6 separate regions of the Homo sapiens genome follow, and regions 2, 3, 4, 5 and 6 are each linked to region 1. Evidence: fine-mapped expression QTL. A gene starts in region 1. Each other region holds a variant in brackets. All regions are shown on one strand. Distances are between the middles of the regions. Region 1 holds the start of KLHL3 (kelch like family member 3). Region 2 overlaps KLHL3 (kelch like family member 3). Region 3 has its middle 72 kb from the start of MIR874. Region 4 overlaps KLHL3 (kelch like family member 3). Region 5 overlaps KLHL3 (kelch like family member 3). Region 6 overlaps KLHL3 (kelch like family member 3).

Region 1 (5,074 bases):
TCTGGGTTCTCTTTTCTGTTCCATTGGTCTATGTGTCTGTTTTTGTACCAATACCATACTGTTTTGGTTACTGTAGCCTTGTAGTATAGTTTGAAGTCAGTTAATGTGGTGCCTCCAGTTTTGTTCTTTTTGCTTAAGATGACCTTTCTTTTCTAAATGGCCTCTTCTGAGTGTTCTCTATTCTGTCTACCTCCTGTGAATCATGAGTGGTGAATAAAGTATGAAGGTGTAGTCGTATGGTTTTGCAGGGAAATTTAGCAGGGTTTTATACTGGCTCTTAATAGTTATATTTTGAAACTTGAATACATACAACCCTTACATATTTCCTTTTCTGATCTTTTTTCTTTGTCTGGTTTGTTAGATGTGGCATTTCCACACCTTCCTGTATGGCGAATATGTAAACGTGGGTATGTGCAAAGGAGGAGTCATCTCTTTCTTATGTCCCTTTTATGAATCACCCAGTTGTGTTCCTGGTGGATGTCTGAACTCTGGCACGGATTCCGAGATTCAGTTTCCTTATTTGTGATGTTCAGCTTTTTGTGGTCCCTGTGATTGGCCTCAAGAGGAAATATCTGGAGCAGGGCCACAAGGCTGATTAGAGGAGGAAGGGACATAGAGGGAACAAGATATGAGGGGTATTGTTGTGCAAGGAAGAAGTGAAGATACAGCCCTGTGGGGTGTAAATGAAATTATCCAGGCCTCTTCTCACTTGAGAAAGAGTGAGTGTGAGTAATGGCCTTGTCTAAGAGAACACTGAGGTGCCAGGGGAGGTAATCTTTGAGAATAACCCTGTAGCCAGTTTGAGTTCAGGAGGCTATATAAAGTTTTAGTTACTTTTACTTTCTGTCACCTCAGTGTTCCTCTCTTCCTTCTGTGGTTTTAGGGCTTTGTAGTAGTGAAGAAATTTAACAGGTTAAAATGATAAGGATGATAGATTTACTGAGCGTCTCTTCGTACTTTCACCTACATCATGTTATCCTCCTTGAAGCCCCCTACAACACATTGGAGCCTAGTATTTCTTCTTAAACAATCACACGGATTACTCTGAGAAGAAAAACGGACCATTTAAAACATTTTTAGAATCCTGTGATCTTGGAGCTGAAAGGGACTCTAAAGATTGTCTGGTCTGACCCTATATTGTGAATGAGTAGCTGAGCATGAGGTCCAGAGTGTGGAGAACACTACTCAGGAAAGTCACTCACCCAGTGAGTGCTGGTGTGGATTCGGAAAAGCCCAGGGGTGCCATGAGGTGTCCCAGAAGAGAGATGCTCATAGCTGATTTTTTTCTGAGGCATTAGGATAGCTTCTGCACCACTTTTTGCAGCTAATTGTCCCAGTTACCTCTAAGCCTCTGTGGCTAGGATATACAGACTGGCCTCATGCCTTCCACAAGATTATGTTTTAGTTTGGGAAAGAAGATTTATAAATAATGAATTAGCCAAGACTGTATATTAGGTGTGAGATGACGATACAGGAAAGTATAGTTTGTGTATTTTGGTGGTGATTGACTGTCATTGGTGTGATTAGGGAAGGTTTTATGAAGACATGGGATTTGACTGGACTCCCAGAAAGACTAAAGGACTGGGATTGGAGAAGGCATTTCAGGCAGGGAGAGTTAAATTAGTCTAAATTGAAGCTCAGCAGCTGGAGATTACAGGATGTGAAAGATCTTTGGCTGGATATGGGGGTTCAGTGGGAGACTTACTAGTTGGAGCCACTGCTTAAGTTAAATTCCAATATGACAGATTTTAGGAAGATATTTTAGGATTGTGCTAAGATATTTTAGTATTCATTGTGATAGCTTTACTGCAGTAGTCTTTGGCCTCTTGCAGTAAAATAGGGTTTGTTTCAGTTTCACCTATTTGTACTACCTCTCTTTTTCGACTAGTTTTCCAATTTCTCTCTGTATTCTCTTAATTTCTCTCTGTGTTTTTCTCACTTCTGTCAGGTGCTTTTCCCTTAACTTCTCCCCATCTATCAGACACTCAGAGCTACTACAGAATTTGGGAGGAGGATTTGGAACATAAACTGTGACCTACAAGTGAATTTCCCCAGGTGGATGATAAACTCCACTGCAGGCCACAGAGGGGCCTCCTCATTCCAGCAATCTGGCCAGGCTGACAGACTCATAGCCTATGGGAGCAGGGGAGGGTGTAGGGGCCAGTATTTCTCGGGCTAGTGACGAACTGCCTGATTCTTTGCAGCCTAGACAGAGGAGGCAGGAGCCCCAGGGGCGGGCTAATCGCCTGGGCTGGGGATGCCTGGGCAGATGCAGAGGAAGCTGGAAAGGTGGCAGTGCACCTGGGTCGCTGGAGCTGCCGCCGTTCCTAGGAGACCAAGGAGCAGCAAGCCTGCGGGGGAGGGGGAGCAAGTGGGTTGCTGCTTTTAGCAGCTGAAAGGGCTGCAGGGAGCTCTGGGTAAGACATTTTCTGTTGCTGCTGCTTTTGCGGTAGAAGCTGCTGCGAGTAAGTCAGAGGAAGGAGGATTGAGAAGGGAGGAGGCTTCACTTGCAGCCATGCTGAATCACTGTTGCTGATCAGATTTCCCACTGGTCTGCTGGGAGAATCAAGAACAGAACTAGGATCCCCGAGTGCATACACAGTTCAGCAGCTACCACCCTGGCTGGGCCTCACACAATGGAGGGTGAAAGGTATGTATGTATAAGTGTGTGCTGTGTTGTGTGTGTATGTAAGTGTATGTGTGCTTGCGGTGCAGCCACCAGCTTTTGTGTTTGCATTGGCTAGGCAGAGTTGGAAGACCTGGCCACTGATGGATCTTAAAGGGCGCCAGAACAAGAGCAGGAAAGCCGCTTTCCAAATCACCCGTTCCAGGGCTTGAATCTCCAGAGATCTGGCTTCCGCAAAGGCAGGTCTGGGTTTGCTAGGCAGCGGAGCACCCTGAAAGAAGGGACTTCCTGGCTGGTGTTCGGGAATAGTTTCAGCACAGGCTGAATCAGATTGCCTTTCTCAGGCTGTTTCAAGGAGGCGTTTCCCTTTCCTGGCTCCTTTCCCGGGGTGTTTTTTCTTTGGTGGGGGGTTTTTGATGTCATAGTGGGGCTGACCTGACATAGTGTACTTGCATTTTCACGCAGGAGTGCTTGAATCTTCAGCAAGCATGCCATGCTGATGGCTGTGTGTGTGCGCGCGTGCACGCCGTGTATGCCTGTATACACACACATTCAGGGATGAAGGAGAGAAACCCAGTCAGATGATACTTGCTCTGAACTGAGTTTCATATTTGTATTGAAAAGTTTATGAGTGATACTGGAAGGTCTGTGCTTCCTCCATCAGGGATTTCTTTTGAAATAGGAACCAGCAGAAAAGATTTTAAGTACTTTTGTTGAGCTGGATCTAACTAGCGAGGCAGTTAGATCCTGGCAGGCACACACATCTAAATTTTTAAATTGTTATCTGAAGATCTGAATCTTTCATTGTGAAGGTGCTCAGCGCAGTGCAGAGGTGACATTCCTCTGTCTATGAAGTAAAATATCTCTTGAGTGCCAACCTCTTCATTCTTTGGTCTGCAGTTGGTAGAGTACGAGGCTTGCCATTTTATCTGAGGAGAGAAGACTGCAGGGAGGGGTCCGGCCATGGCAGTGCACCACTGAGGGGAAGCCTGCTGCTCCAGATTGCCAGTTTGATGCAGACAGTAACCATCTGGTTAACAATAATAGGCTCAACTAAGTCAACACTAGAGAGTATCTCAATGAACACTTTCCTTTTCATGAGTTGTTGTGACTTCTGTGTCTCACGGGGCACAGTGATGCCATTAAACATCTCTAGACCCTATTAGAACTAGCATGATGATTGGGTGTCATTCTTTTGTCTGTAGAGGCCCTGGGAACTGTGTTTCTTGATGACTCCCACAGGAAGAGCCTGGGACTGACTGTGCTGCTGGTGCATTCTCTTTCTGGGTGCTCTTTGCAACAGGAGTTTAGTGTTGAACTCTGTGAGGCCTGCTGAGCAGCAGAATATGAAGGCCTATTTCCTAAGTGTGGGGCAGAGGTGAGCAGTGTCTTTGGTCCCCAAAACAGTGTCCCATTGATCTGGTAGGTGGCAGAGAATGGGGTTGATGCGATGAAGGTTTAGAGATTCTGGGCCATGCCTATTTGCTTGACCTGTGGTGTAACTGGGGTTGAGAGGTCAGTGTGAGACTACCAGCAGCGGATCAAACAGTTTTGGGCACTGTGTTCCCAGTTCTGTGTTCAGAAATATAGTGAGTCCTTGCCCCTGTCCTGGGGCCTCTCAGCTGGGATGGCTGATGTCTATGGCTTTAGAACACCAGGTTGCACATGTTCTTGTACTTTTCCTCTGCTGAAGGCAGATGGTAGACAAGAAATCCAAACCGAGCAGCTTCCAATGTTCACCAGGTCACCCAGGTCATACCTTTTGTTCCTGCTCCAAGTCCAGCTTACCATGCCACGCGTTCAAGTCTTCTGAACTCTAACTCCTGTTCCCATTTCCACTGCTCACTCATATACCTACTGAGAATTCTGTTGATCTCTTTCATGATCACCCATCCTATACATTACTCCATCTAGCCTCATATCCTTAGCTCCCAGAGTTTCTTTTGCTGGATGTCTTTCCCTTCCAATTTTGCAAAAGTTATCTATCTATCAAGGTTATTCTAAAATTCTACTTTATCTTGGAAACTCAGCTTTTCTAGTCCTGGCTGATGTTCTTCGGAATTCTAATACCTCTGGTTTGTATCTCATAGTTGGACACTGAATAATAGGCCCACCAGATCTTTCAGTGCTTTTATTTCATATATCTTAGCAGTCCCCAGACTTGGAGACAGGTCCTCAAGGGCAAGGCTGGTGCCTTGTACTTCTAAATACCCCCATTGACTACTGCATGGGTACACAAATAGCAGGTGCTGAATAGTTATTAGCTGATTAGCTAATAACTTTTGTGTGAGGCTCTGATAACTAAAAAGAAAGTTGGTGAAAGAAGAGACTGAAGCCTTTGGCCAATAGCCTCATCTTTGGATATCAGCCTTATTATCTTAGCACGGGTAACTGACTTCAAGGAATGCTTTGAGGTAGGGGGAGAACAGAGGGAAGTAGCCTTGTTTT
Region 2 (5,074 bases), 40 kb after region 1:
AACAATTCAGTTGGTTACTGAAGAGGAAACTAAAGCTCCAGAGAGGTCAGGTGACCTGCCCTGGGCCACATGGCCAGGAGGTGGTCGAGCTGGTCCTCAAACTCATGCCTTCCTGGCTTGGGCACCCATGCTTTTAGCCACTAGGCCATGATATCCCTGAATGAGCCTGGGCCCCGGGAGTAGAAGATCTTTAACTCATGTCTTCAAAATCTTGTGAAGGAAAAGCTGGGAGCTTAGGTGACTCCTATTCTCCCCAGGTCATCGTCTCATCTCAGAATTCAAACAGGTGAATAACTTTTGGGTACTAACAGTAAGTGCAAAGTAATTTGGCATAAAATGAGTAGAGGGGAGGTAGTAGAAGTCTATAATTGGAACCAGCTCTCTTTGCTCTTTTCATCATGTATTTATTTAATAACTTTTTTTTCCTGTAAAATACAAAGTGTTTACAAACTTGGATAATTAGAAGATATTCTACTCTGGATCCTTATTGCCTGGTTAGGATTAAGAGGTACATAAAGCAAGGTACAGTTTATGTGGACATAATGTTCACTGTTTGGTGGTCCTGAGTCCAGAAGCTTCTGTCTTATGAGGTTGGGTTATGTCACCCTCCCAGCATGTGGATGCATTCACCAAACTGAAAATTCTCTGAACCTCATTGTTTGGGGACTTTTAATCTCTTCACTTTAAACTGTGGTTAGGTCAAGGGTGATGTTGGAGAAAAAACAAGAAAGATTGGCAAGGGGCTGGGCATGGTGGCTCACACCTATAATCCCAGCGCTTTTGGAAGCTGAGGCAGGCAGATCACCTGAGGTAAGGAGTTCGAAACCAGCCTGGCCAACACAGTGAAACCCTGTCTCTACTGAAAAGACAAAAATTAGCTGGGCGTGGTGGCAGGTGCCTTTAATTCCATCTACTTGGGAGGCCGAGGCAGGAGAATCACTTGAACCCAGGAGGCGGAGGTTGCTGTGAGCTGAGACTGCACCACTGCACTCCAATCTGGATGACAGAGCGAGACTCTGTCTCCAAAAAGAAAAAAAAAAAAAGATTGGGAAGAAGAGAGTTTGGATAAAAACATGGATTCTTCTTCATGCTGTTATGTATCTGCTGAGGCGGTTGCTCACAGGTTGTCTGTGAAGACAGGAGGTATTGAGGATTTGGTGCACCGAGGAGATGAGCATGGAGGCACTGGGGCTTTCCTGAAAGCCTTAGAAACAAGGGTCAGAGATCTGGGGCTTGGTTAAATGGCTGTGAGAGCTACACCTGGAGTCCCTTCCCAGGCACACGTACCTTGGAGGGACCCTGAGTTCCTGTTCCGTGGTGGAGGTACCAGCAGTCATACTTTTATAAGCAAGCATGTGCCCATCAATTCACATGCATTATTCCATTCAATTTTTATAATCACCCATTGGACCATACCAATATGATTCCTCCTTTACAGCTGAAGAAACTGGTGCTCAAAGGGGTTAAATAAACTGCCACGGTCACATAGAGAGTAAGTGGTAGAGTTGGAAGCTGAAGCCAGCCCCCTCTGACTCACTGTGCTCTGTGGCTATGATGAATTCTAGTTTCTCATGAAATGAATGATCAGAACCTTGACTTTGGCTCATAATTATTTACAATAATAAAAACTAACATCAACTGAGCACTTCCTATGTACCAAGCACTGTGCTAACTGCTTTAAATTTTTCTCATTTGATCCTCATAACAAACCTTATTGTCCTCATTTTATTTTTGAGGAGACAGAGGCATTGAGAGGTTAAGTAATTTGTCCTCAGTTGCATGGCTGGTAAGTGGAGGAGTCAAAATTCAAAATGACGCTTAATCACAGTGCTGTTCTGCCAGCTTTCCTGTTCATCTATATACCCCCCCACCTCTTTTCCTTTCTTTCTTTATGTGGCACTGATTCTGTGCCAGACCCACTGTGTGATTGGGGCAGAGACCCTGGGTGGCCCCAACACCTGCGCCCCCTGGCTGATGCCCTCCCTCTGTGCATGGCCCTGCCTCCCTGCA[A/G]TTCCAGGAGAAGGTGCTTTCTGAGGCAGGGCATTTCCTTTTGTTTTTGCTAGAGGAAGCAAACTCTGTGGCAGGATATCCTCTGCTGTGTTTTCATGTTATCTGAGGAAGAAAAAAAAACAAAACGGGGCCTGCACATGAAAAATGGAGGGGAAGCCATTGCAAGCTGAAGGGTAACCTGTAGACTCTTGCTGGGGGCCATTTCAGGGCCTGTTTTCCAAGAACTGTAATGCTGAGGTGGCAGAAGGCAAGCTAGAAGATTTTTGACTTACGGTAATCTTCCATCCTGATGGGTGGATTTGGCCAACTACTCCTCTGATCTCAGCCTCCTCCCTCCAGGGACCAGGCAGTACTGCCTTAGTTATTCTATGAGGATGGTCTTGCTTCAGAGCTGAGGACCTGCACTTGGCCTTTTGTTCATAATCTTGTCACTGCTGCTGCTTTGAAGAAGTAGAGTTTCAGGCAAGATAAGAGAAGAGGAAGTCCTCTCAAAGCCCTGTTGATGTGGGGAGAGGGAACTGAAGACAGTCATTTCATGGATGTATTGCTCTTTTTTCTTTCAGGGCCTCTGGGAATGTATTTTGTACTTGTGTCTAGATCCCAGAACCCCATTGGATGGGGCCCTAATTTATCCCTGAGACCCAGAGTCTGAGCAGTGATACATCTTCCAGCCTCCAAGCCTTCCCTTCAGCATTCTGATTTCCTTGACTTTTTTTTCCCACACTTTTCTGTATGAAGCAAGTAGAAGGAAGAAAATGGCCTTTGACTCTAAGCTAGTCTCAGAGTCAAAGAGAGGGAAAGAGCAACTAGAGAAACCAGAAGGCCCATTCATTTTAGGAAGTCGGTTTGGGAAGGCTTTTGGGTAGGAGTGGACTCAAACAGGATAAGGGGTGTGGAGAGGTAGAAAGCCTTATAATTTTTGCCTACTAAGTGGGTATTGTGAACAGTAGGGAAGTTGAAAGCCATGTGGGTAGCTCTATCCAGGGAGGTTTTAAAAATGGAAAGTGTAACCTAAGGAGTATATTCAGGAAATATTTATTATTTCATTTCTCTGGCTGGTTGTCATGAGCTTGAGAATTTAAGCACCACACTGTGCTGCTGTCTCCTTGGAAGAGGGGAAGGGGGAAGGGACTGTGTGTCACTGGCATGATCTTGTATATGCGTATGGGGTTGGGGAGCTCGCTGGAATGCAGTCTGAGGGCAGATTGGACTCTCAGAAATCCTCTTGGATGGTGGGTGGTGGGGAGAGGGTTGCTGTTGAATTCCTGCCTCTTCTCACATCTGGCCCTTTTGGAGTTTACCACACCTCTGAGTAGGGTTTGTGCTGGCCAACATTTGATGGCTTCCTCTCCCTCAGGGCTTCTGAGGGTCACTGGTTAGAGGTTACTCCTCCCTAGGATGAACACCTATCCTATTTTGCCCAGAAGCGAGGGGCCTTCTGAGAGGGGGACTTTCAGTGGTAAAAATGGCAAAGTCCCAGGTAAATCAGCATGATTGGTCAACCTATGGCCTTGACACCAGTCTTAACTCTAGCTGATACTGGCCAGGGGGTGTCATGGAGGTCATTTGGAGACTGGGAGCAGAGCTTTTTATTCCTGGTGTGCATTCAGCAAGAATGGTTAATGGATCCCCATTTGACTAGCAGGCAGAGACTAATCTGGTCCTGGAATCTGTTCGGCCGGGCTGAGCAAGCTCACAGGTTAATTGAGTTTCCCAGTTTATGGCTGCTTAGAGGAGATGATGGCTGCTTAGTGGGGAGAGAGTTCAGGTGGTTAGATTTGGATCCTGGCTGTGTTCATTTATAGTCCAAAACTTTCAGAAGAGGGTGATTTTATCTTTTTCTTTCTCAGGAATGTATTAGTGGTTCAGAAAATATCACAGACATGGTGTTAATTTACTGTTTTCCTGCTGGGGATATAGGATAGTGGAAGAGAGGATGGAGGAAGGGAAAAGGAGCACGTTTTCTAGAACTCAGCTGTCGTGAGAGAGAAGTGTAAGCCTGTGGGTAGGAGCAGCTTTCCTTGTTGAGCGTAGGCATTTGGCTCAGGAGTTCGAGCACTGATAGTGGTGGCTCTTGGTGGTTATTGTCTGTGGGCAGGGATAATGAAGGGTGACCGACTGTCCCATTTTTAGCCCTGAAAGTCCTGGGAAACCCCCAGTCCTGGAAAAACTAGGACTGTTGGTAAACCCAGTGGAGGGACAAAGCCCCCAAATGGGCAGTGGGGCAGAGTTTTTGGCCTGAGTACATAAAAGTGATGAGAGTCAGAGCTGAGGACTCAGAGCTGTCTTGGGAGAAAGAGTCCAGAATTTAAAGCACTTAAAAAAAAAAAAAAGAAGTCTTTTTCAAGTGTCCTGAATCAAGAAAACAAATGCATCTGCAGCCCATATCTTCCTGGGCAAGCCCTTGTGGCTGGGAACAGCTAGAGTGTAGCTGGCTCAGTCACTCTCTCAGAGCCAGGGCAGCAGCTGAGAGCAAAGGCCTGGGGCAAGGGGATTATTTTGGGGTGAAGTGGATGCCAGGGTCCCCAAGATAAGCAGCCTTAAATCAAGCTATTCTGTAGTGTGATTTTTTTTCTAAATTTCTTTTTGGAAAATCATTCTCAGACTACCTGCTGCTTCCATAGGTGAAGGGCAGGGTAGCAGAGCTGGAGTGGGACAGGACTTTGGCCTTTTGTCCTGTATGTTTGATCTAGAGGCAGGCTTCAGCAGCTGAGGGAAAGTCCTAGGGAAAATTGATAGAGGTTGGCTGTCTGAGCACCCAGCGGGCCTGCTCAAGCCAGTCTTCCCTGACCCTTAGGAAAAACACATGCATATACACCTGAGCAAGAACTATTTCTGTCTTTCAGGATATAGTATAAATAGTCATGTGTCCTGTGACCTTTTAAATGGAAACTTAGCTCTCCTTTCTCTAAGAATGTACCTAAAGATGTTCTTTGCTTTGTATCTGTTTGATGGGAGAATAAAGTGTCGTTGCCTGAGTCCTGAGGGATTTGGAATGAATCTTGTTCCAGTAGACTCTAAGCTCCAGGAGAACAGGATCTGGTTTCTCTTGCTTACCCCTGAA
Region 3 (5,074 bases), 160 kb after region 1:
AGAACAGGAAAGATCACAAAAATTTAACATATTTAAGCATTTAAACATTATTGATAATAGTGTGGTAATGCGTTATGCGTCTGGCCTTGTAGAAATTTTTCATTCATTGTTATCTCCTTTCTCACTCTCTTTTCTTTTGGTTATTTATACTTAAAAATTATTTTACTTTCGGGCCGGGTGCGGTGGCTGACGTCTGTAATCCCAGCACTTTGGGAGTCCGAGGAGGGCGGATCATGAGGTCAGGAGATCGAGACCATCCTGGCTAACATGGTGAAACCCTGTCTTTACCAAAAATACAAAAAAATTAGCCGGGTGTTGTGGCGGGCACCTGTAGTCCCAGCTACTCGGGAGGCTGAGGCAGGAGAATGGCGTGAACCTGGGAGGCGGAGCTTGCAGTGAGCCGAGATTGCACTACCGCACTCCAGCCTGGGCGACAGAGCAAAACTCCGTCTCAAAAAAAAAAAAAAAATTATTTTACTATCATTTTAGTGGGATTTTCAGAGGGAGAAGAGACAAATGCTTGTGGTCAAATTTTTGAAAAATATTTTTGTTCTTTTTCAAAATTAAACATGTAGTTGACTGGCTTAGGTCCAGCAAGTACTATTCTGCTTTTGTATCATCAAGGAAACTTCATCTTTTTCTAAACTGTACAGTGCTTATATGCTGTTTTTCCTCTAGTAATAGGTCTTTGGTTTTATCCCCCTATAATCTAATATTAAAGAATTTGTAAAAATAAGGAACAACACACAAATATAGTAAAGCTAACAAAACTGAACTGCTGTTTGGGGAACAAGGCCACCCAGTAATAACTTGAAATCTTTGTCCATTAGTTAGGAAAGTCTACCTTTGGAGAACAAAGAACAGATTAGAAATGACAATGTATAAGATACAAAAGTTAGATGTGGACATTAAGGGCTGTTAGTAGACAAAACTAATGAGGTTTCCTATTGTGCTTCTCCCCACCTGCCTTCACTCCAGTGTGTCTGCAGGACTCCAGCAACCCACTAGCTCGAGCTCCTTTCATCCTTCAGCACCCAGCCCAGACAGTTCTGCCACTGAAAACCTTCTCTCTTTGATCCTGGCAAGGCAAATTGCTCTGCAGATACTTTGCTCTTGCTTTGTTTTTCAAATCCTTATGGTGGTTTCCAAATGTCCTTCTGTGAACTGGTGCTAAGCTGTGATAAAATTTCACTGGTCTTTAGAAAAATTAGAAAAATAAGGAAATGTAAACTGTGTATTTGTGTGTGTTGTGGGTACACACATGGTGTGAAATGCCAACTCTTTTTTTCTGGTGAGGAGTGGCCTTCATTATGAAACTGTCCTTTATTTTTATTCTTAGATAATAAGGAAATGTCTTTCACAAAATAGTGATGTTAGTATATTGTAGACAAACAAATGTTTGCTTGGCAAAATAACAGGTTGTAAACATCAGAAGCCAAGCTCAGAATTAGGGTACTAGAATGTCACATGGGAGCAGTCATTGCAATAAACCACCTGATACAGTTAGGCTGAGTCCCCACCCAAATCTCATCTTGAATTGTAGCTCCCATAATCCCCATGTGTCATGGGAGGGACCCAGTGGGAGGTGATTGAATCATGGGGGTGGGTCTTTCCCTTGCTGTTCTTGTGATAGTGAATAAGTCTCATGAGATCTGATGGTTTTATAAAGGGCAGTTCCCTCCACACACTGTCTTGCCTGCCACCATGTAAGACGTGCCTTTGCTCCTCCTTTACCTTCTGCCATGGTTGTGAGGCCTCCCCAGCCATGTTGAACTGTGAATCCATTAACCTTTTTTTCTTTATAAATTACTCAGTCTCAGGTGTGTTTTTATTAGCAGCATGAGAACAGACTATTACACCACCTATGGAATTAGCTACATCTTTTGCACTTAGTCTTTGCCTTTCTTACAGCAAATATCTCTGTCACGAATTCTCGTTCCTATGCTGAGTGTGTAGGGTCTTCAGAAGACACTCAGCACACCCCTGGAAATTAATGGATGAATGGATCACATTCCCTGGCTGCTGGGTTAAGCTTATGAGCTTGCTTTCAAGGGGTTGGAATTACTTGTATGGGACTCAGGTCTTGCTGTTAATATCATTGTTGTGTATTTGGTGCCAGGACACTTCCCTGCCTTTCCATTCCTCCTGCAGCTTTTATAGGGAGGCCAGCCCCAGCTTGGCAGCATCCCAGGGACCAAAATTCTTCTAGTACTTCCTCTTCCTTCCTCCTCAGCGTAACCCACATCCTTCCCTTGCCTCTCCCACTTAAGGGATTTCCCTAAGGGACCCTGTTTGATTCATCACCACATCTTTACTCTCTTCTGGCAACAAGCCCAATGCCTGGAACAGAGTAGGCACTCAGTCAATGTCTATAGAATGAATAGTAAAGAATCACGCCTAGAAATTTCACAGTACATATAATTTGCAGGTGCCTCCATGCTTTCATCATTTACTAGAAAAAACAATGAACATTGAGAACTTTGTAAATCACAAATCCTAAGAAATTCATGGATGACCTTGTGTAAGAATTTGTGAACCTCTTAAAATTATGTGAAAAATCTTATGTATGGTTGATGAATGTGCATTTTTCTGGGGAAAATAATTTTCATGACTACACCTTTAAAAGGTTAAGAGCCATCAAAAAAATGAGGCTTGGACCTATGCACAAATACACCTGAATATACATTCTAAGATGGGAAGTGCTGTATCGATACAAGAAATTGTTATTATTGTCTTCGGGAGTCTTGCTTTGGGATACCTGACCTTCTGCCCTGACCACATTTTTTTGTTGTTGCCATCCTTTCTTGGAAACTCTATAGCTTTGGGCTCTAGCATTTTACCACTGGAAATGAAGCCTGGAATTTTAGAGTCAGAGTCACCGAGCTTACTACATGAACCTAAAGCTCCAGGTGACTCAGAAAGATTTTTAGGTTAATAACTAACTGGATTGGATAGAGTGTTTTGTTTCACA[A/G]ACATGATCATAATTTGCTCTTATTTACTTTTAAATTATAAATGATTATTCAGTAGTTTTTCCACCTTTTTAAATGGGCTCTTGAAAACATTGCTTTAATGAAATATAAAACTTAAAAGCAGCTGTGGTGTTGGTATGTAATGATTGAAGTGTAATTAAGAGTTGTAATTATTCCCAATTAGGCATTTGGAATGCCAAAGTAGGAGCCCTAATCAGCTCAATGTGCAAGGGAGGATCAGACTTGAAACAAGGACAGGGTATGGGGTGGGGAGGGGTTGACTTAGGGACCCCCAAGCATTGAATTGAAGAGGTCTGGTCATGGGATGGCCCATCTAGGGATGGATTCCTCATGTGTGGTGGGATGGTAGAGGGAAGGAAGGCCCCAGCCTTCTCAGGTTTAAGGAGGAAAGAAAGCCCTGCTCAAGGGAAGGTGCTTCTAATGAATGTTCCCCTGGACTTCTGAGCCTTAATTACTCCAGAATTACTCTGGAATAACTTCCTTCCCTTATGAAAATGTAAGTCACTTGAGGGCATAACAGGGACCAGAAACTCCATCCTCTATAGCCCACAGGGACACCATGACCTGGTGTCATCTCCAAGGATGCCAGCTTTCCCTACTCCCACAATTTTGTGCTGCCTTACCCTCACCTGCCTTCCCCAAGACTCCACTAGAAACCTTTCCCCACTTTCTTTTCACAGTTAATATGACAAGGGTTCTGTATTACCATGGCCCTTGGGCCTCCCATGGGCCCAAAGGAGTAGGAAACTCCATTACCTACCTGTCCTTCCTCTAGGAAACTTGGTGTAGATCAGAAAATGTGGTGGTGACTTCCCACTTCTGCTCTGGTTATGAGTCTTCCTGGGGACAAGGGAGGCCGCAGAATCTTTTCCTGCTGTTAGCTCATGAATGAACCCAACTTATGACTTGATGACATGGAATTAACATGGGCAGCAATGGCTTAATGCCTGTATCATTTGGCTTGTGAGGATGGTCCTGCTGATGTTGTTATTTCCCTTGAGCCCTTCTCCTGGATGACACTGGTGCCTGGACCAGGGTAGAGCAGGAGGCAAGTCTGAGAAATGGCATGCCTGACAGACCCATCAGCTGGGAGTGCAGGCACATGTCACAGAGCCATGGTGGGATATGGCTTGAAAGATCCCTTACAACCAGCTCACACTAGTGGACTTTGACACTTGGGTTTTATTTACCAATGTGGGTTAGTATGGGCTCACTGGAGGATTTTGAATAAAGGAGGGACCTGGCCAGAGTTGGGCTTTGGAAGATTTGTCAGGCATCCTGTTTAGGGGTGTCGATAGGTGCGGGGAGCCTGGAAGCAGGGAGATGTACTGGAGACCGCTGTTCAGTCCAGGGAGTGGTGGTGATGAACTGGGAGCAGGCTGGCCTGGGAATGGCATGGGAGGGCCGTGGGCTGAAAGGTCGATGGGTAGGGTGTGGGGAATAGCAATAGAGGAGCCCAGGTGCCTAGAAGGATGGCACAGGGGAGTAAGGAGGAGGGGGCCAGGCAGAAAAGTCAGGGTTGGGATATTTTGAACTTGGATAATTGGAAGGATTAAAAGAGAGAGAGAGAGAGATATGTGAGACTATTTGGGAATGAGAGCAGGAAGAGACTGAGTTTGGGATGAATCATATTGTTTGAGAGAATGTCCAACCAGCATGAGGAGTATGGGAGCTGGGTTGGAGCATCTGGGTTGGGAGAGAGCAGAGTGAAAATGCAAGAGGATGAGGACCAAGTCCTTTGCATGGGGGCGGGGCTGCCTGTGTGAACCCAGAGCCAGAAAAGAGCCAGGGGAAAAACAGTTCTGCTGGCCAAGCTGATGGCTTTCTTGGGACCTTCATCCTTAAGGACTGGAGCAGCTTGGGTTGGGTCTGTGGACTCACTGTGACTCTGGTCTGTTGAGGGTATTAAAGGAGGCTCCCGTGCTGGTTAGTAGGCTCTGACCCCAGAACTGGGCAGATCTGAGTTCTAATCCCATTGTACACTTCTAGCTGTACAGCATTGGCTAACTTACTTAACCTTCTGGATGTCAATTTTCTTGTTTGTAAAATAAGACCTGCCTCATAGGTCTTGCAGCTAATATTTA
Region 4 (5,074 bases), 22 kb after region 1:
TTTGTGACTGTAATCCCAGCTTTGCAGGAGGATCACTTGAGCCCAGAAATCTGAGGCCAGCCTGGGCAACATAGTGAGACCCATCTCATTAAAAAAAAAAAAAGAAATTTACGTCTCAACCTAACTTAACACTATATTGAACACATTTTTCTATGTCATTAACTGTTCTACAATATTAAGTGGATCAATGATATTCTATTTTTGAGTTATTTTTTAAAGACAGTTCCCTGTTGTTGGATGTCTAGGTTTTCCCAGTTCCTCATATAAATAACCCCTGCTATGGTTATCTTTGTAGCCATATAACATAGTGATTACAAACATAGACTCTGACTTCAAATCTTGGCTCTAGTACTTATTGTGTGACCCTAGACAAGTTAATTAATCTCTCTGATCTCACTTTTGTCAACCATAAAATGAGGCTAATAAGAGTACCAGTCTTGCTGGCTTGTTAAGAAGATTAATGAATGAAGTGCTTAAAACAGTGACAACACATATATTACTGTTGTTGAATACTTGTACACATTCATGATTATTTGTATAGAAGAGAAGTAGAATTGCTGATTTGAACAGCCTGTAGAATAATAATAATAACTATGCCTTAGATATTGTTGTGAGATCCTGGCACATAATGAATATTCTGTAAGCATTAGCTATGATGATGATGATGATGATGATGTGCTAAGCACTGTGCTAGGTTCAGGAACATGGCAGGAGATAAGAGGACTAAAATCTTGCCCTTAGTGAAGCTTGTATTCGCATGTTATTGAAAGGCTACATCAAATTCCAAGGTATTTAAATGGCTAACTTATGAAAAATAGAGTGGAAAGGGGAGGCAGGGAGGAAGGGGGTCTGCATTGATACTTTATTGATCTGAGTGAGTTTAATGGGAACTAGAGAGAGGCTGGGTATACTTATGGAGGCCTGGGCTAAAGCATCTTGCCATCCAGGGGTTAAGCTAATGAAATGTTACATGATATTCCAGGGATTTGGGATTATTTCTTGCATTGCTTTCACATTCCCTTCCCTTAATTTTAAGCTATTTTAGTTCAAGCACACATGTTCTTTGCAATTTATGAATCACACAATTCATGAGTTTCCTATTCTTTTTACCTCCATGGTAGAGAATGGCTGTTGGCATAGTCACTGCCAAGCCTTCTTCCTCCTTTTGCACTTTGTTGCTCTGCTGTGGCCAGACCACAGCTGCTGCTTCTGGATGGCAGAGCTCTAGTGACTCTTACTCCTGACTTACCATCCAGCAAGCAAATGGGGCTGTGGGCCTTCTTAGAATAGCACATCCTAACCAGGCCTGAAAAGAAGGGGCAGAGAGAATGGAACAACCAATGAGTAGAATCCACATGCAGTCTTTCTTTTCTCATTTTGACAATTTTAATCTCCCATTTCACCATTGCAAACAGTTCTCTGCTCTCATCTTTTTTTTTGATGGTCTGTCACTATGCTTTTATTATTGTTATGAACCATCTTAGCATATTGCTTTCTGTTTTTCTTTTGGTAACAGTTTTATCAAGACATAATTCAGATGCCATACAATTTACCCGTTTAAAGTTACAATTTAATGGCTTTTAGTTTATTCACAGAGTTGTGCAACCACAATCTTAGAATATTTTCATCACCCTAAATAGAAACGCTGTATTCTTTAGCAGTCATCCCCTCCATAGTTTACCCCATCCTTACCACCACTCCCCATCAGCCCTAGGCAACCACTAGTCTACTTTATGTCTCTATAGATTTGCCTGTTTTAAAATCATACAATAGGTAGCCTTTTGTATCTGGCTTCTTTCATTTAGCATAATGCATTTAAGGTTCATTCATGTTGTAGCATGTCTCAGTACACCATTCCTTTTTATTGCAGAATAATATTTCATTGTATAGATATACCACATTTGACTTCTGGCTATTATAAATAATGTTGCTATGAACATTCATGTACAAGTTTTTGTGTGGATGTATGTTTTTATTTCTCTTAGGTATATGTCTGGGAGTGGGATTATTGGGTCATATGGCAACTTTAATCTTTGGAGGAACTGCCAAACTGTTTTCAGAGCAGCTGCCACCATTTTACATTTCCATCAACAGCAAAGCTTCTACTTTCTCCACATCTTCTCTAACACTTCTTATTGTTTGTGCTTTTGATTATAGCCATTCTAGTGAGTGTAAGGTGGTATCTTGTTGTGGTTTTGATTTGCATTTCTCTGATTGTTAATGATGTCGAGCATCTTTTCATGAGCTCTTTGGCTATTTCTATATCTTGTTTGGAGAAATATGTGGGGTTGGGGGAGGGGGGAGGGATAGCATTAGGAGATATACCTAATGCTAAATGACGAGTTAATGGGTGCAGCACACCAACATGGCACATGTGTACATATGTAACAAACCTGCACGTTGTGCACATGTACCCTAAAACTTAATGTATAATAATAAAAAAAATCTCTTGTTCATTTTTAATTAGGTTATTTTTCTGTTTATTATTGAGTTGTAACAGTTTGAGTTCTTCACATATTCTAGATACAAGCTCATTATCAGGTAGATGATTTGCAAAAAATT[A/G]TTTCTCATTCTATGGATTGTCTTTTCATTATCCTGATGGCATCCTTTGAAGCACAAATGTTTTAAATTTTGATAACTAATTTATCATTGTTTCTTTTATTGTTTGTGCTTTTGGTGTCATATCTAAGAAACCATTGCCTTATTTGGAGTCATGAAGATTTACCCCTATGTTTTCTTCTAAGAGTTTTTATAGTTTTAGCTCTTGCTTTTAGATCTTTGAGCCATTTTAAGTAAATTTTTGTATATGGTGTGAGGTAGGGATCCAACTTCATTATTTTGCATATGGATATCCAGTTGTCCCAGCACCATTTGTTGAAAAGACTGTTTTTTTCCCAGTTGAATGATCTTGCTACCTTGTCAAAAATCAATTGAACATACAAAGGTTTATTTCTGGACTCTCAATTTTATTTTATTGATCTATATAGCTATCCTTATACTAGTACCACACTGTCATATTTTTTGAGATAGGGTTTCATTATGTTGTCCAGGCTGGTCGTGAACTCCTGGGCTCAAGCAATCCTCCTGCTGCAGCCTCCTGAGCATCTAGGATTATAGGCATGTACTGCTGCACCCAGCTACACACTTTTTTTTTTTTTTTTTTTTTTTGCTGGTTATTCCTCCCCTCAACCTCTTAACCATCTCCCATGTCTGAATTCCAGGACCATGTAACCACTTGCCTGCTTGGTAACCTTACTTATGTGTCCAGTGGGCAGCTCAAACTTAACATGTTCAAAACTTAACCTCTAATCTTAAATGAAATATTATTTGGAAAAAAGAAGATATGGAGGAAAAGTGAAGCAGACAATTGAAAAAAAACCATTTTTTTAAAATTTTTTTTCAAAATATGAAAAGTTAACATTTGCTAAATATTTACTATTAGCACTATGCATTATCTGATTTACAGCACATGTCAATTCTGTGACACTCTGGGGACGTTGTGTACTTGTCTACACTAGAGAGTGGTGGGACAGAGGTTTGAGAGGCTTGAACTCAGGTGAGTTTGATTTGAGAGCCTGAGCTCCTTCCTAACAGCTACATTGTACTTTTCCACAAATGGCAAAGTGTCTAGTCCTACTTTTCTCCCCTCAAGATGGAGTAGTGTGATAGCTCGGAAAAAAGGATCCCATAGGATCCCAGGTAAATTGAATAGGAGTGCTTGTGAGCCATGCAGTGCTTTAGAGCTACTACTTCCCTCTTCCATGTAGCATGGATACATAAAGATGTCTCCAGTGTGCAGACAGGCTTCCCCACCCCCAGGGAAAGCCCATCTTAACTATTTGGCAAGTTTCTTTTGGCCAATTTCCCAGGTTAGTGTTTCTCTGGCCTTAAGATACACTTTCCACCCATCAGAACTGCTGTCATTTATTTGCTTAACTGGATTCTCCATCTTTATTCTTCATTCCCTTGTGTTTCTTTCCCATTTGTTCAAAAATTGTCAGGCTCCCTGGGTTTGTGCAAGATAACACACCCTGACATTTGTTTGTTCAGCTCCTAGCACTGAACATTTGTTCAGCATTTCTGACTCTTCTCTGCCAACAATTTTCTTATTAGTTACCAAAAAATATAACCGGTTACTCTTTTTTTTTTTTTTTTTTTTTTTTTTGACAGAATCTTGCTCTGTCACCCAGGCTGGAGTGTAGTGGCATGATCTTGGCCCACAGCAACCTCTGCCTCCTGGGTTTCAAGCGATTCTCATGCCTCAGCCTCCCTAGTAGCTGGGATTACAGGCATCTGCCACCACACCGGGCTTTTTTTTTTTTGTATTTTTAGTAGAGAAGGGGTCTCACCATGTTGGCAAGGCTGGTCTCAAACTCCTGGCCTGAAGTGATCTGCCTTCCTCAGCCTCCCAAAGTGTGGTTATTCTTAAATAGCAGTGATAACTCAATTTTCTTCCTAAATGTAAGTAAAAATGTCCAAGATGAGTCTATTCATGTTGGAAATACAATTTTAGAATAAAATTTAATGAGACTAAAGGCCATTTTCAGATGGCACCTGTAATCCCATTTGGCCCCCATGATATATGTCCCAAAGGCAGCTAAAACAGGTGAGAAAAATGGGGTGAGCTTATTTGCCCATGGTCTCATAGCCAGTTAGGGGAAGAGCCAGTTCTGTTCCTGGTTGCACTGGTTTATCCTGATACAGTTGGTGATTAAGGTCTGCTGTCCACTGCAGGGTAAGGTCTCAATCCCCCGGTTTTGCCTCTTGCTGTCCAAAGGTCTCACCCTTCCAGGAAGCCTCCTTAACGATACTTTATTCTACTTCCTGTCCACTTCTCCCTGTTGGGGCTAACCTGTCTTCTGTCTTTTCTCATTCTGAATGTCAGCCAATCATGAGGCATTGTGATACCATGGAAAAGTCACTGTGTCTGGAGTAAGGAGAACTGGATTCAAGACTTAGACTTCTGTGGCTTTGGGCATCTTTTCACCTCTCTGAGTTTCATAGACCAGATGATCTCTAGTAGCATTTGCAGCTCCAGCCTTTTCAGGCCTTATGATTCTATTTCTCTGATATG
Region 5 (5,074 bases), 110 kb after region 1:
CATGTGAACTACTGATCTAGTACAACTCTTTCCCTTTACAAATAGGGAAACTGAGGCCCAGAAAGGGGAAGGGTCACCCAGTGAGCAAGTCAGAGAGACAGGTCCAGAACACAGGTGTCCTAGCTACCAGGTCAGTTGCACTTTCTAGATACTGTGCTGTCTTCCTTCTTTATGGCTTTCATCTTCTTGTTGTATAAAAGGATTTTAAAAGATTATACTAAAACTTGTAAACGAAGCAATTCTAGCACTCAGCTCAGGCTGATCAACACGGTGAGTGATCTGATAATGCCCTCTGCAGTACAGGAGGAGAGAAGTGGGCAGAAAGGTCAGCTTCTGCTTACACGACCAGCAGGGAGGCCTCCCTGATGATAATTTCAGCACTTTTGCTGTGTGGCTAGTTTCAATTTTTAACTCTTTTTACTCAACTAATATAAGGATGAGTAAGTAATACAGCATTGTAGGAAAACTAGGCAATATAGATAGGCAAAAAAGGAAAATGAATGTAATTTACCACTCAGAAATAATTATTCTTAATATTTTAATGGATTTATTTCAGTATTTTTTGTCTTTTTTTCTTTGCTTATGAACATCCTCTCCCGTATGTATGTATGTATGTATGTATGTATGTATGTATGTATGTCTGTCTGTCTGTGTGTGTGTATATATATATATATATTTTTTAATGTTTTTTAAAAACAGAATTTGGGTCACATTTGCATTATATTTCAAAGTTTTGAGGTTGCTAGTCTTATGAGGAGGCAGGTAGGGTGTCATTATATTTGTTTTACAGATGAGGACACTGAGGTCCAGGGAGACAAAATGGCACTCCCCAAGTCCCCTCACTGGTCAGGGCTGTCCAGGACTGGATGCCAGGCCTCCTGATTTCTGGTTACTGTAGTCAGCATGAGGCTGGGATGCTGTGCTCTGCCTTTCAGGGGTTGGAGTGCTTAGCGGACAGCTGTACGCCACAGGTGGGCATGATGGGCCTTTGGTGAGGAAGAGCGTTGAGGTTTACGATCCTGGAACAAATACCTGGAAGCAAGTGGCAGACATGAACATGTGCCGGCGCAACGCAGGTAATGACTGCTCTCTCCATCTCCCCTTTGGGGGTTGTGTGCCTTTTCTCCCTGAAGACACTGGCTCTAAACAGCAGGGAGATTTCCCAGGGTCTGGAGCTGAGCGTATATCCTGAACAGGGAGTGTGCATTTGCCAGGTGGGCTCTTGATTAGAGGAGGGGAGAAATTGAGACCCCAAAAGCTAGCTGCAGATCCTGCAACCTAGATGCAGAGGATCCCCTTTCCCCGCAGTGAAGGGTGATGACTTTTACCGCACACAGATGAGCACAGACCTGGGAAAGTCCTCTGGTTGCCATCAGTGCCCGCTGCCCAACAGCTTTAGTAGGTAGCTAAGGACAGGGCTCTGTGGACAAGGGCCAGACAATGGCACTTGGTTCTATCTTTTCTTTGCCAGTGCCTGGCTAGGAGAACTTCTCACTTCCTACTTGAAAGCAGTCTCCTTCCTTGCAGGGACAGTTGGACCCTTGATGAGTTCTCCTTTCCTTATTGCTTTCTTTGTATTCCTGTCTTTGCTTTCCTTCTTGTCTCCTATGCCTTCCTGTAGGAAAGATTTACTGTAGTGTATTTAGGTTTATATTTCTTGGAGCATGAGGCCCCTTTTAAGCTATTTCCTTTTTGAGCTTTGCCTTGTGGGTCGTGTACTGTGTCAGTATATCCTTTATGCCTCTTTGCTTTAGGAAAGTGTTGGCTTAGCCCAACTTCCCAGGCTGGAAGGACACACAGGTGACTTTCAGGCAGATCCATTTTCATTATTCTCATATTACCTGTTTGCTAAGCCCATTCGTGGCTGACTTGGAAGTGTAAACCGGGGGGGGGGGTGGTGATATTTACTAATTTACTCATTGCCTAAGCCTGCTGCCAAGTTCTCATTTGGCTTTAAGCCACATGAGCAAAGAATTACAGGACCCTTAAGGCAGCTAGTCTATCTAGAACCTGGGAATTCAGTTTAGATGTAAATGTGTGTTTGTATAAAATTCATACATAGATATTTCTATTTTTTAATAACAAAAATGGAATTACACTATAACACTATTTTATAACCTGTTTTTTAAAAAAACTCACTTTACAATCTCTCATGAACGTCTTATTACAACACTAAACTTATTTATATGATATTATTTTAAATGACTATATCATAATTTAAACAACCAATCTACTATTGGACACAGGTTATTTCCATCTTTTCTATCCTATAAGTAATACTTGAGTGATTATAAATGGTCTTTATAGCTAAATTAGTACACACATTTAAAATTATTTCTTTAGAATAAAAGGCCAGAAATGGATTTTTTTTTTTTTGAGACAGGATCTCGCTCTCTCAGGCTAGATTGTAGTGGCATAATCTTGGCTCTGCAACTCTGCCTCCTGGGCTCAAGAGATCCTCCCACCTCAGCCTCCTGAGTAGGTGGGACCACAGTTATGCGCCATCACGCCTGGCTAATTTCTGTATTTTTTGTAGAGACAGGGTTTCACCATGTTGCCCAGGTTGGTCTTGAACTCCTGGGCTCAAGTGATCCATCTGCCTTGGCCTCCCAAAGTGCTGGGATTACAGGTGTGAGCCACTGTGCCTGGCCAGAAGTAGAATTTTTTAATCAGAGGAAGCACATGTATTTTAGACGCCATCCAGGAGGGTGTCCATTTTTTCGTCTCACCAGTATTTGAGAGTACCTTCAGCAACACTGATAATTACTACTTTTTAGAGTATCACCAATCCCTTAATCTAATTTTGAAAAAATACACAACATATTGGACTGTGGCCTTTGAAAGTCTTAATGAGCAATAATTCATTACATTTTCCTATGCCTTAGACCCTGCTGTATGAGACCTTGCCCAAAATCCATCT[C/T]CCTTTGAGATCAGAGTAGGAGCTGTTCTGCATCCCTGGGAGTTGTGTGTGAATGTAGACCCAGTCTTGTAAAGGGATTAGAGACATAACCATCAGCATCACACAGTGTGAATATAACATAGGGCTTATCAGGGAAAAACTTAGCAGCAGAGAAGGAGTAGCATGCATGAAGTCCCCTGAATTGTCTTATTCCCTAGCTCAGGCCTGGCACAGGAGGTCTGTATACACCTTTCCATTAAAGAGGGGTCTGTGCCCATATGCTCTACATACTTATAGTATAGGTATGTGTGTGGCGGGGGGCATACACGTTATAAGTAATCAAAACTCCCTGGTCAGAGAAATGATCCTGTTAGGAAGAAGGATCCTTGGAGCCCAGTGGCTGTTGTCAATATTTTCTTTCACTTAGCAAACTCAAACCTGTGGAGCCAAATCTCTGTTGTATTGCCATGAAGGGAGGAAAAGAGCCTCCCAGGCTATCCAGATTTGTCTCTTGATCAATTCTGATCTCTTAGTGCACCTGCTGTGATGTCTCCCATGGCTTTTGTTTGACTCACAGGGGTCTGTGCAGTAAATGGGCTCCTGTATGTGGTTGGAGGGGATGATGGATCCTGCAACTTGGCTTCGGTGGAGTACTACAATCCTGTCACTGACAAATGGACGCTGCTTCCAACGAACATGAGCACGGGGCGGAGCTATGCAGGTCAGTGTGTGCCATCTCCATGCCCATCCGAGAGGCCTCCAACACACTGGGGGAATGAGGGTTGGGTGGGCCAGTGGGATGAGGGGATGTGAGCTTGCTTAACTTGGGCCTGAGTGCCTCCTCCAGGGATGACAGGTAATTGTTACATGGCCACCACTCCTTCATTCTGCACTCATGACAGATATTGATAATTAGCACTTATTAACCCCTGCCCCTGCCCGAACCCTGTGAACCTGAAGATAGCCTCAGAATTTATAACATTCATTCCATCGAACCACTTCCAACTGAACTGAGTTGTCACAAGTGATTTTAGAATTTCATTGCCATTCCTGGTTTACTTTGTGCCAGGCTCCTAGATGGCATAAGATGCGATTGTTGTTGTCCAGGGTCGAATTGGACAACTGGGAAGACAAGATGATGCATATACAAGTTCTAAATGACATACGCTAGACAGGTTTTAGCACATGAAAGACTGGTGAGAACTGGCAAAGCCAGGGAACCCTTCCTGGAGGAGATAGGCTCAATTAAACTTTGAGGGTGGATCACAATCACACAAATAGCTGTCCTTTACTGCGTGGCTGGCCCCGTGCCATGGGGCAGTGTGTTAGGAACAGAGTGTGCATTTGTTCTCATCTTTTCAACAACCCTTGGGCTGAATGGGACTCTATCCGTCTATTTTATGGATGATATAACAGGTTTGGAGAGTTTAAGTAACTTGCTGAAGGCCACACAGCTAATAAATGGCAAAGTCAGAGTTCAAACCCAGAGTTCTAAGTCCATGCCCTTTGTGCTACCCCAGCTCAGGGTAAGCCTTAGAGTAAGGCACCAGGCGGGTGTGGAAGCTTCTTGGGGAGTGTGTGTGAGGGGTTTGGTGAGTAGCAGGGGCAGGGGTGGCATCAGAGTTGGTACTACTAAGGTTGGGTCCATGGGGAGATGAGCAAATATATATCCATGGTGTAGTTCAGTTCCTTGTATCTGGTTTTCCAGAACCTGGAATAGAGATAACATTATTGATCCAGCATGCACAGAACATACCAGGCATTATCCAAAGTATTTTATAGTCATTATCTCTTTTAATCCATACCACGACTCCAGGAATATTCTTCCGATTCCCATTTTGCATTATAAAGGTCAGTCATTCCATCTTGTTTGACTGCAGAGGAAGATTGTGCTGTGCAAATTTGAAGGAGTTTGCAGCACATTCTTTCAACATAAGACTTCTGTTGTAATGAACTTTAACTTTTTTCTTCCTTTAGAGTTTTTTTCACCTTGTAATACTTTTCTTGGCTAAGTATAAAACATTTTAGAAGAAGTTTGGTCCTGGAGTAATTCTGTTCTGGGATGAGTGAGACAAGTGAGGAATCTTCCCTTGACTCCATGTGTGCCTTAATGAGAGGGGAAGAGTTAAGTGTGGGTGGTTAGAATTTCATATATATGCTGAATATTTCATGTCC
Region 6 (5,074 bases), 30 kb after region 1:
CCAGGAATTTCACACTGTAGCCCAGAAAACTAGCTAAGTTCAGTATCTGGAAATTTTGAGCTGCATTCCCTTTTGAGTTGTCCTAAACCCTAGCTGCAAGGCCTTTATTTCCTTTTTTCCCCCTTTCCTTCATCAATCTCTATTTTAAAATAGTTCATCTTGTCTGTAATAGTTATTTAGCTGTAACTTCAATAAATAGCTCTGCCAGTTATTCTTTGTGTGTGGAGTTTGGAAAGTTCAGTGTTGAGAGAGGAATCTGTTTGGAATTGCAATGAATTGTCATGCTGGCTCCACTTTTTGTTAACGAACTTGCCTCTGAAGTAGCGGAAGTGTCATAGCAAAACCAAAGTGATTTTACAAATTGGAAGAAAAAGTGCTTCTGGGGCATTCTTAGATTCTAGGAATGGAAGGGACGGGAGAATCAAGAGAAGAAAGCAGTGTAATGCAATGCCCAGCCCAAGCCTTCCATTAAACCTGGTTACCATCCATCCTTCCACCCATCCATTCACCCGTCCATCCAAATACTGTTCACATGTGTTTATTACAGGTAAAAACCAGAAACTGTGGGCAAGCAAAAAGTAAAAAATTACGTGTACTACAACATCTAGGTAAGAGTATGGTTTATATCTTTTTAGATTTTATATTTATAAATGTATACATATACAAAATATATATTTTAACATAAGTTCATTTAATGTGTACAGTTGAATAGTCTTTTTTTTTTGAGACAGAGTCTCGCCCTTTTGCTCAGGCTGGAGTATAGTGGTGCAGCCTCAACTCACTGCCACCTTCGCCTCCTGGGTTCAAGTGATTCTTGTGCCTCAGCCTCCTGAGTAGCTGGGACTACAGGTGTGTGCCACCATGCCTGGCTAATTTTTGTATTTTTAGTAGAGAGTGGGTTTTGCCATGTTGGCAAGGCAATCTTGAACTCCTGGCCTCAAGTGATCCACCTGCTTCGGCTCCCAAAGTGTTGGGATTACAGGCATGAGCCACTGCTCCCAGCCTAAATAGCCTTTTTTGATGTATGTATTTTTTTTTAAATTGCTATTCATCTTCCTGGAATGTTCTCTCCTCCATCTTTTGGCCTGTCTGACTCCCGTTCATCCTTCATTACTGCTTAAGCATCACTTCCTCAGGAAGGCCTTTTATGACCTCTTTGGCTTAGGTTAAATTCCTTTGCTACTTACTCCCATGGTACTTTATACTTCTCTTTAGTATTACTACTCATCTTATTACTTCCTCAATGTTTGATTTCCCTGGCCAATCATACTCTTTATAAGGGTAAGAACTATACCTTTAAAATTCACCACCATGTCCCTGCTGCCTAGCATGGTCTTCCATATAGCAGGTGATCAATAAAAATTTGTTTAATTGAGCTTAGCAATATATAATGAATATCTTTCCATGTCAATGAAATTGCAGTTACAACCTAATTTTAATGCCTTCATAAGATTCCATTATATATACTCTAATTGAAAATTCATTTCCTTCGTTGGAAATTATAGTTTTATGTAATATTTTGTTATTATAAATAATGATATAATGGGCATCCTTGCATCTTAATCTTTATGTACATTCCTGATTATTTTACTAGAATAGATTCCTAGAATAAGAAGTACTCGATTAAAAGGTATGCACACTTTGAAGACTTTTGAGACATGTGCCGCATTGATCTAAAGAACAGTTGTACCAGCTTATGCTCCCATCAGCAAGATATCTAAGATTTATATATTTTTAAGGCCCATTGGCTTTGCCTAAACCTTGGTAAACAGATACTAAAAATCTCCAGTAACATTGCAAAATTTTGTTCTAATTATCAGGTTCAGCTTCAAAACGTGTAAAATGCATTGTGTACTGAGAGTAAGAGGCTGACTCTCGTTAGATCCATTTCTATCAGTGTGTTTAAAGCCAAAAGGAAAGTAAAATACACATGGCTTTCTTCTGACTTGAGTTGTGTGATTATGGTCTTTTACTCAAGCTTAAATGTTTTTATTTTTTTGTCTTCCGAGTTCATGTTGCCCAAATGTCCTGAGGTGGTTCCAAATACCAATCCCACACTTCTTGACCATTGTCCTGTGGACAATAACTTGGAATAAATGTGAAACTGAAGTCTGAGTGCCCATCAGAGAGTGTCCCAATCCAACCAGTCTATAAGAAGATCTGG[G/A]GTGAGCAGTCAACCTATTTGCCCTTTACTGCTTTCAGCATAACTTGAGTGGGGAGGCCAGTAGTGCTGTGTTCTGCCCATCTTTTTCCTATAAAGATGAAATGTCTAGGACTCATTCCCCATCCTCCCCATCCAGCACCTCCATCCCAAGGGAAGCAATTTTCCCAAAATCTCCTCATCAGTGTTTCTCTCTTTATCATGCCCTTTACCATGGCTTCTGTATACTGTAGTATTTGTACTCCATATGGGTCCCTGCCTACATGTCATCCAGATACAGCCCCTATTTTATGGTGTTAAAGGAACTGAGGTCTACAGAATATATGGGCTCAGGGTCTTATGCCCATAATCATGGCTAAAAGACACTTGGGCTTCCATCCCAAATGAAGCCCTGGGAGTGATCTGTCCCACTCATCTGGTCATATTGTACTGTATGTAGTGGCTGATTTAGATTGGTTTTTGTTTTTTAAAGAGGAGTTACTGTCCAGTTTTTATTAGATTTAGGCTGATGTTTGGTATCTTTGAATATATGGTAAGTAGAAATAGAGAGGAGAGTTCAGGAATGTGCTGGGGGTGAGAGACAAGGGGCTTAGACTTGGAGTAGGCAGGAATCATCCACAAGGCAGAACCATGAGGGCCTGGCTGTCTTATTCACTTCCCAGGCATGAAGTTCCTTCCACAGAACTGTTGTTTCACCCTTGCTGCAAGCCAGACTCTACCAGGCCCTGGCCTGTGGCTGTGTCTGTGTTCTAGTGTTTGTGTGGTATATTGATGCCTTTGAAGAGCTCTGCATAACATGCAGCTCAGCAAAACTGAATACAAGGCAATGGACAATGAGAGAAGGAGAACTAGGGAATAGAATTCTTTTCTTAGACAAAGTGGGCCTTCAGGGAGGTTGCAGAGTAATAGTGGTAGTAGATAGGGTCTGGTTTCTGAGAGTTTTGCCCCTGAGGAGTCAGGGATTAGGTAGAATAGTTCAGAGAAAAAGGGATGGCGGTGTCAGAGGCTGCCTGGGATGAAGGAGCAATGGCTTCACCTTCCACGTGGCTATCTTCTAGAGTTAGTCACTTTTGGGCTAAGTGACAGTGACATAGGGCTTCTTCTTCCTGTCCCTATCATACCACAATAAAGTCAGGCATCTTTTTCTGGCTCAAGAGACCCAGATACCCAGATTTGAAGGTGAGGGAGCCAGTAGTCCTGTCTAATAATGTTACCCTTGATGCAGAAATGGCAAGTTTCTTGAGCAGGAATTTGGCTTGTGGTTCAACAGAGGACTGTGTGGTGCTCAGGAATAGAGACTGCTATTCACTTCCAGTGGTTTCTCCATTAAGGTGCAACTGGTTTGACCAAGATGGTCTGAGGTAGACTTGTTTGGGTTTAGAGTAGCTCAGCCTTAAAATTGAGACCACCATTGGAGATAAACTATTGGTAAGGAATATTTTATGAATGTTCATAGAAGAGGTTTGGAGTTGGTGATGTGGGGGCCTCTTTACTAAGGATTAAACACAAGTGTGGTAATGCCGCCTTGCACTGGGAGATGGTGTGGTATCTTGGAAAGGGCTTTGGAGTAATAATGACCTGTATTCCAATCTTTTTTTTTTTTTGAGACGGAGTCTTGCTCTGTCGCCCAGGCCGGACTGCGGACTGCAGTGGCGCAATCTCGGCTCACTGCAAGCTCCGCTTCCCGGGTTCACACCATTCTCCTGCCTCAGCCTCCCCAGTAGCTGGGACTACAGGCGCCCGCCACCGCGCCCGGCTAATTTTTTGTATTTTTAGTAGAGACGGGGTTTCACCTTGTTAGCCAGGATGGTCTCGATCTCCTGACCTCATGATCCACCCGCCTCGGCCTCCCAAAGTGCTGGGATTACAGGCTGTATTCCAATCTTAACTGCATAGGTGCGTGGAGAATTCACTTTCCTCTCTGATCCTCAGCTTTCTTATTGAAGGGACTGGAATAATAACAATAAGTAGGGAACAAATATAGGTAACGGGTATAAGGCACTCAGCACTGTGTAGATAGTTAATAAAGTCTACTTTTATTATTGTAGAGCACGTCATAGTTTTTAAAATTCTTGTGGATGTCGGGGGTGGAGGTGATTAGGGTTGATTTTTTTTTTTTTTGTAGTCACTATGTAATGACACAGAGGCATTTTTTTCCTGACTTTGTGCTTCTCGTGCTTCTAGTTGAGCAGAAAGATATTTCCAGGTGGAGGAGGGATGAGATTCCAGGGAGGGCGGGTGATGAGGCGGTGTCTATCACTGTGGTTCTGCTGGATCCTGCTGTCCCACCTTTCACAATCTCATTGTCTCCTTTGATTCTCACACAACCTTGGGATAAAGGCAGAACAGAGAATGTCCTTATTTCACAGGTGATATAGGGTGACCTGTGCTTCAACAGAGGACTGTGTGGCACTTAGGAATACAGACTGCTGTTCACTCCCAATGTGACATAAGGACCTGTGAACTAAGGACATTCCCTGATCTGCAGTCAAATGGCCCAGACCACTCACCTGCAACAGGGTTGGTCAGGATTCAAGGAGATGGCAGAGTATTTCTTTTTCTCCTGTGAGGTTAATGTCTTTGGCCTTAGTGCTCAGCTCTAGCCAAATGAGTTGGCAGCCCAGATTTTAGGACTTAGATGAGGGTTGGGGGGAAGAAAGTTCCATAACCATCTTAGTGCCCATGAAGAATCATTGCGCAAAGGGTAAGGATTTTCCTTTGTTCTCTCTACCCAGAACATGAGACTAAATTACAGTACTAATTCAAGTTAGGAGCAAGAAGGTATTCTGTGACATAAGGACTCTTGAACACTCCCTTTTCTTGTCTTTAAGGACATATAACTATGTAGGGGTGGTCGGTGGTTTAGCTGTGGTGTTCGTCAGAGAGACCTGCCAACCAATCTATTCCATTTTC

What was found. PIP is the estimated chance that this variant, and not a neighbour inherited with it, causes the effect.
Region 2: its variant is fine-mapped to the expression of KLHL3 in whole blood (TOPMed, PIP above 0.99).
Region 3: its variant is fine-mapped to the expression of KLHL3 in whole blood (INTERVAL, PIP above 0.99).
Region 4: its variant is fine-mapped to the expression of KLHL3 in whole blood (INTERVAL, PIP above 0.99).
Region 5: its variant is fine-mapped to the expression of KLHL3 in whole blood (INTERVAL, PIP above 0.99).
Region 6: its variant is fine-mapped to the expression of KLHL3 in whole blood (TOPMed, PIP above 0.99). The same link has a PIP of 0.9 or more in subcutaneous fat.

What each region holds. Positions count from the first base shown.
Region 1 is chr5:137,733,209-137,738,282 of GRCh38, reverse strand. It overlaps KLHL3 (kelch like family member 3), which reads left to right and starts at 2,194. Exons shown (of 15, transcript NM_017415.3): 1 at 2,194-2,650. The coding sequence starts at 2,637. RefSeq lists enhancers at 1,927-2,595, 3,927-3,996.
Region 2 is chr5:137,693,131-137,698,204 of GRCh38, reverse strand. All of the region lies in intron 4 of KLHL3 (kelch like family member 3), which reads left to right. Among named protein-coding and RNA genes, the nearest start is that of KLHL3, 40 kb to the left of the region's middle. RefSeq lists a silencer at 2,539-2,739 and an enhancer at 967-3,927. The variant A/G (reference allele first, on the strand shown) is at 2,011.
Region 3 is chr5:137,573,223-137,578,296 of GRCh38, reverse strand. No RefSeq gene overlaps it. Among named protein-coding and RNA genes, the nearest start is that of MIR874, 72 kb to the left of the region's middle. The variant A/G (reference allele first, on the strand shown) is at 2,972.
Region 4 is chr5:137,711,248-137,716,321 of GRCh38, reverse strand. The region is part of intron 2 of KLHL3 (kelch like family member 3); the gene reads left to right. Among named protein-coding and RNA genes, the nearest start is that of KLHL3, 22 kb to the left of the region's middle. The variant A/G (reference allele first, on the strand shown) is at 2,563.
Region 5 is chr5:137,624,299-137,629,372 of GRCh38, reverse strand. KLHL3 (kelch like family member 3) reads left to right here. Exons shown (of 15, transcript NM_017415.3): 13 at 936-1,076; 14 at 3,477-3,620. Among named protein-coding and RNA genes, the nearest start is that of MIR874, 21 kb to the left of the region's middle. The variant C/T (reference allele first, on the strand shown) is at 2,921.
Region 6 is chr5:137,703,083-137,708,156 of GRCh38, reverse strand. The region is part of intron 3 of KLHL3 (kelch like family member 3); the gene reads left to right. Among named protein-coding and RNA genes, the nearest start is that of KLHL3, 30 kb to the left of the region's middle. The variant G/A (reference allele first, on the strand shown) is at 2,165.